2 separate regions of the Homo sapiens genome follow, and region 2 is linked to region 1. Evidence: fine-mapped expression QTL. A gene starts in region 1. The other region holds a variant in brackets. All regions are shown on one strand. Distances are between the middles of the regions. Region 1 holds the start of PIP4P2 (phosphatidylinositol-4,5-bisphosphate 4-phosphatase 2). Region 2 overlaps LOC105375633 (a long non-coding RNA gene).

The links. PIP is the estimated chance that this variant, and not a neighbour inherited with it, causes the effect.
Region 2: its variant is the best candidate, but not a certain one, in a credible set for the expression of PIP4P2 in whole blood (INTERVAL, PIP 0.78).

The regions. Positions count from the first base shown.
Region 1 is chr8:91,039,303-91,042,223 of GRCh38, forward strand. It overlaps PIP4P2 (phosphatidylinositol-4,5-bisphosphate 4-phosphatase 2), which reads right to left and starts at 1,557. Exons shown (of 7, transcript NM_018710.3): 1 at 1,342-1,557. The coding sequence starts at 1,447. RefSeq lists a silencer at 1,579-1,778.
Region 2 is chr8:90,761,995-90,764,915 of GRCh38, forward strand. All of the region lies in intron 1 of LOC105375633 (a long non-coding RNA gene), which reads right to left. Among named protein-coding and RNA genes, the nearest start is that of NECAB1, 28 kb to the right of the region's middle. The variant G/A (reference allele first, on the strand shown) is at 1,649.

The sequences.
Region 1 (2,921 bases):
AACAAAAATGACCTGTAGGTTTTCTGTGGGCAAGTCTCTCTCTGTGCCTTATTTCTCAAGCCATGGCTCACACTGAATTATTTACAGCTAAGCATCTTTTTCCTTTGTTTTTCTTCTTGTTAAGTATGGATTAAGATCTAGATAGTTTATTTTGAAGTTACAAAATGTTAAATAGAAATTTTAAATACTAAGCAAGTTCAACCTGCTCTACATCAGCTCTAATTCCAGACTTGAACTTAAAAACTTGTATTACAAGAAACATTACCTACTTATATTTTCAAAATCATTAACTTTTGCTTCCTTGGGTTTTTAAACTTTGCTCATATTTAGCCAAAAAAAGAGAGAGATGCACTTAAGGAACATTTGCAAGTGCCATTTTGACCAATCTTTTCACTAACCTAAGTGGGTTTTTTTAAGTCTTGCCTTCCATTTTCTTGTAACGCCTGACTCCACCTTATTTATTTACTATAGTAATCAACTAAAAGGCTTAGAACAACGATCGATTTTTAAATAAATCGAATAGTATGGTAAATAGATTCCATATTTCTCCAGATCCCATTGCATTTAATCTTTTTTTATTCTTCTTGAGAAAAAAATAGAAATATATGTATTATTAATTTGGGTTACTTTTTACAAGTTAATTTCAATCTCACCCAGATATGTGTTAAAAATATCCCATCTTCCCTTCTATGAGAAGTAAGGTCCTTCCTTCTCATTCACAATTAAATCTAACACATACTCCTTGAAAGTAGGAGTAAAAAGGAGGGGCAGGAATTTCAGACATATTAGGAATATTGATTAACTGTATTCATTTTGGATATGGCAATTCACTGAGTGAACAGAGCACTGTTGGGTGAATGGTAGCAGAAGCATATTGTTCAAGCTAAAGCCCTTTCAAGGACAGATGCCAAGGTGAGCAATACTCCTGGTTTCTCAGCAACGGAAAAAGATTTGTGAATGATTGTGAAAGATTTGCACCACCTCCTAGCTGCGCTTAGGGGCTGTTCTGAAAACAGCTAAGCAGAGCTTGGGAAATTCATGTCACATACTGTAGCCCTGGGTAAGAAGTGGTGAAATACACACACACACCATCACCACCACCACCACCACCACCATCACCACCACCACCACCACCACCATCACCACCACCACCAGAAAAACCCTGCGGAGAAGCTATCAGGCAGGCGGGCTTGCCTGGGAAGGCACAGTCAGCATCCTTCCTCAGCCCAAGCGAGAGGCTCACCTCCACCTCCAAGCTAGAGCTCCCAGGTCTTTATCCTTCTGGGCGTTTCCTTGCAAATCTACTTCCTTGCAAAGTAGAGGGATCTACGCTGGCCTTACCTCTGGGGCTGCTTTCTTGCAAGTACGGTGGGGCGGTGGGAGTGACATTTCCGGAGTGGGATGCTGACAGCAGAGGCGAGCGTTCGTCCACCCCATCAGCAGCCATGACTGCGGCAGCGGCGGGGCCTGGGGAGGCCGAGCCGGGGTTGCGGCCTCGGCGGAGTGGTGGCTACTGCTGCTGCCTCTGCTGCCGCTGCTGCCGCTGCAGCTGCTGCTGCTGCCGCCTCCGGGAGGGCCCGGGATGTGTCACAAGGCAGGAAGCGGGGGGAGGGGAGGGGAGGGTGCAGGACCAGGAGGCGGGGGAAGGGAAGCGCGCTGGGAGGCATGGCTGGGGGAGGGGAGGGGAGGGAGAAAGAAAGAACCCGCAGAGTGGGAGGAGCAGCAGTGGAGGAGCGGGAGCCCAGCCAGCCAGAGAAAAGGGGAACAAATTAGGACCAACTGGGAAACGCGAGGAAAAGAAGATGCCAAGTAACTGAAAGGGGGTCGAGAGTAAATGGGATGGAGGGGGACAAGTCCTTTGCTCTAGGAAAGACGGATAAAAAGCAGCCTGAAAGGGGCTAGCGAAGAGGAAAGGCCTGTGACTTGATTACAAGAAAACTGGAGCAAAAGCAGATTATCAAGTTTATCTCCCCTAAGGAGGAGGAGGGACTGACTCTTTGCTGTCAAACTTTGCAGCAGTTATATAAAGAAAACATCTTCCTGGGGTTATCAATTCCTCTAGGGTTTTTTTGTGGGAAATCAGTTTTCAACATCTGTTATCTAAGAGAAAGTAGATCTTTGCGGAAGTGTCAGCATTCCCTACTTTTCCTGATTGATTTTTTTTAACAACAGGAATGTTGGCCTGACCGGTTTGGAACTCTGGTAACAGTACCTTTTTGGAACTATGCAGTGTGTTGCCTTTTACAAGTTTCATTTTACAAAATAGGTTGTCATCTTAGTTTTGGTTTTGTAGCCTATTGTCCCTGACACATATACAGTAAGTAGGTTTATGAATAACGTCAAACAACGAAAAACAAGTTTCTTGAGACAAAAGTTTTAAAATAATCGTTTACTTGTAAAACAGAGTTAAAACACAAAAAACCCTAAGCACTGACAAAGATTCTTTGCTTGGTCAAACAAGTAAGGTTTCTGAATCTTATGCTGGGCCCATCTGCACTTCCTTATAAAATCCAGTTTTAGCAAAGAACCCTACTAACTTAATTTAGCAAGAAGCCCCATTCTCAATATTGATATTTGATCAGGTTCCTCATCCTCCAGCATCCCCCATGTGAGGCCTGAACTCCTGTTCTGTCTTCAGCAAGAATCCCGTTTGCTTGGTTTAGTCAGAATCCCCCTTATCCCTGATATTTCCTTGGTAATTTTCCATCTACTGCCCCTGTCCTGCATGCTCCTAGGCTATAAATTCCCACTTGTCCATGCTGCATTCAGAATTGAGCCTAATCTCTTCTTCAACATGGCAAGACCCTGCTGCCATGGTCCCTATACCTATCACTATAGCCCTAAATACAGTCTTCCTTACCATGCTTTGACAAGAATCACTGAATAACTTTTTTCTTTAAAAACACAGTTCTTGCCATGTT
Region 2 (2,921 bases), 280 kb before region 1:
CTTGTTGTTTAATAAGAACAACAAATACATGCTGGAACCCTATGTGTGTTATATTGAACATTTTCTGAATGAAGGAATAAATGAATAAAAGAGATAGTAGTAGTAGCAATAATAACAACGTCACTTAGTATTTTCCAAGTGCTTACTATGAACCAAGCATTGTTCTGAAAGAATTAGAAGTAACTTAATTCTTATAATAAGACAATTAACAGAAAAATTTTCCCAAAAAAACACCCATACTTTGCCTACTTGTGTTTATCTACTTATTTATCTAAGTATATATGTATCTATCTCTCTAGAAAAGAATTTTTCATATATTAAGGGCTTGTTTCCTTGCCATCGAGGACAAAATCCAAACTTATAAGACCATATTTCATGCCTCAGTGGGCATATCCAATGGTGGGTGAATAATTCCATGATTGAAAGATTATATTCCATGCATGGAATCTGACTATTCATGCTAAGGAAGCAAGGTTCCATGTCTAGGAAAACCAACTTCCATGACCAAAATCTAAGTTCCATGTCTGGAATGTCAAGTTCTGCATTTGTATGGCCATGTTCCCTTTTTGGAATTTGTGGTTCTAAACATGGAGTGTCAGTTGCCCTGCTTATATGGTCATATTCCATTCTTGGAGACTGAGATTGTATACACTGAATGGCATATTCCAAAGATAATATTCCATGCTGAAGACTAAGATTTTATACATGGAGTGGCATGTTCCATACGTGAAAGCACAGTTCTACAGTTGAGGGCCACATTCAACACCTGGAGATGTATGATGTCATACTGAGAAAGCCATATTTTATCCACAGATAGCCAAATTCCAAACATTTAGACTCAGATTCCATATTTAGGGATCAAGTGCTAAGACTAAAACATCTCGTTTCATTCCCAGAAGTACAGGTTAGATATTTAGAAGTCCAGAGTTCAGATCTAGATGTCCAGGAACCATTTCTAGTGGGCCAGATGACATGTTTTGAGATTCAGGTTTCATCCAAGAACCTGAGGGTCCAAGCTTGGTAAAAGATACTTCACATAGGTCATAACCTGTGGCATATCTGAAAGACTACTCCATGGCCAGAAGACAAGGATCCATATATAGCAGCTCAGGCTCTATACCTAGGTTAAGTGTGTATGCTTGGAGAGGCAGGATTTATTTCTGCAGAGACATTCCATGTCTGAATAATCAGATTCTGTGCTTGGAGAGTCAGGGTTGATATTTTTAAGGGCCACATTAAACACCTGGAAGGCCAGTGTGCCTGCTTAGAGGGCTAGATTTTATGCTGGAGATGATGGGGTCAAAGTTCTATGCCTTTAGGGCCATATCTCATGTGGAGGACCAGATTCCATGTTGTATGACCAAGTTCCATGCTTGAAGATTGAGATTTTATATATGACATATCAGATTTTGTGCCTGGGAGACTGGTTTCCATTTCTCAGAGTGGCAACATGTAAGGGGTTCCTTTAAGAGATTTGGGGCTAATCAGGGAAAGAGATATGACCACAAGATGCAGTAACACCCAATAAGCTTTATTGTGTGGTGCTTAGACAGGTTGGCATAGAGGGGAAGTCCCTACAGGATGAGTCCATCCAGAGGCTTATGGTGAGTGGGCCATCATCCAGAAAAGGAGGAGGCAAGGGAACCTC[G/A]GGTTAAGGGGATAGAAGAGGGAGGCTGTGTATCTAAGTGATGTTCATTCAGCAGCATAACAGAGTGTCTCTGGGTCAGAAAACTCAGAAGGGCAGCAGCAGCACCTTGGTGTCTTATAACCACAAGACTCTACCTTATCAATGGCTAGCAGATATTGGGTGTAGTTTCATTGAATATGCAAAGCAGGTTGGCCCTAAATGCCAAAATTATGCTTGTTTGGGAGCATTTTTAAAACAATTAAATGTGTAAAAATTTAAGTGTGAGATCAGTAGGCTTTTGAGCTAATGGTTCTCAACCAGCAGTGAAGAAATAACTTAGGGACCAATACACAGAGGCCATCTTTGGCTCATTTACATAACACAGCATCTATAACTGAAAATTCAGGTACCAACCATGTCTAGGTTGCCAGTTTCCACACTTGTAATATCAGTGTTCCATGTTTGATAAGTGAGAGTCTGCACACAAAGTGCCAGGCTGTATACTTGTAAGGCCACACATAGTTTGCCATATGCCTTGCATGTGGAGTCATGTTCCATGCATGGAATTTGAGACTTCATACTGGAAATGCCAAGTTTCATGCTCATAAGTTTCCATCTTTGGAGACTGTGATTCCACACATGAAGTGACATGTTCCATACCTCAAGGCACAGTTCTATAAATGGGGGGTCAAGTTCAATGTCTGGAGAACTACCTTACCACACTCAAAAATTCAGGTTTTACTTATAGATGGCCAGTTTTGAACATGGAGAATTATATTCCATGTCTACAGTCAAATATCAAAACTGGAAGGTTTTATTTCAGACTTAGAAGTTCAGATTAGATATTTTAGGCCTAGATGATCAGATTCCACAGTTGTTGGGCTACATAACATCTCTTTAAATTTTGGTTCTACCACTAGAAGGCTATGTTTTAAGCCTGGAGAAAGAGACATCAAACGGGTAGGAAGTCATGGTTTGCCTCCAAGGTCTAATTCTATGGCTAGAGGCTCTGATTCACATCTTGAATTCCAGATTCCACATGAGATTCTAGAAGGAGTGATTCTATAGGAATGATCCTATAGGAATGATCCTATGTGTGGAAGGGCAGGATTCACATTTGGATGGACTTTCCATGCCTATAAAGTAAGATTCTATACTTGAAGGGTCAGGACTCATGTTTAAATAGCTACATTCAACACTTAGAGGGCCAGCCTTCATCCTTAAAGGGCTGGGTTCCATTACAGGAAGTTTAGACCCTAAGAAAGTTATACTAAGTCTCAGTGGAGAACCAATT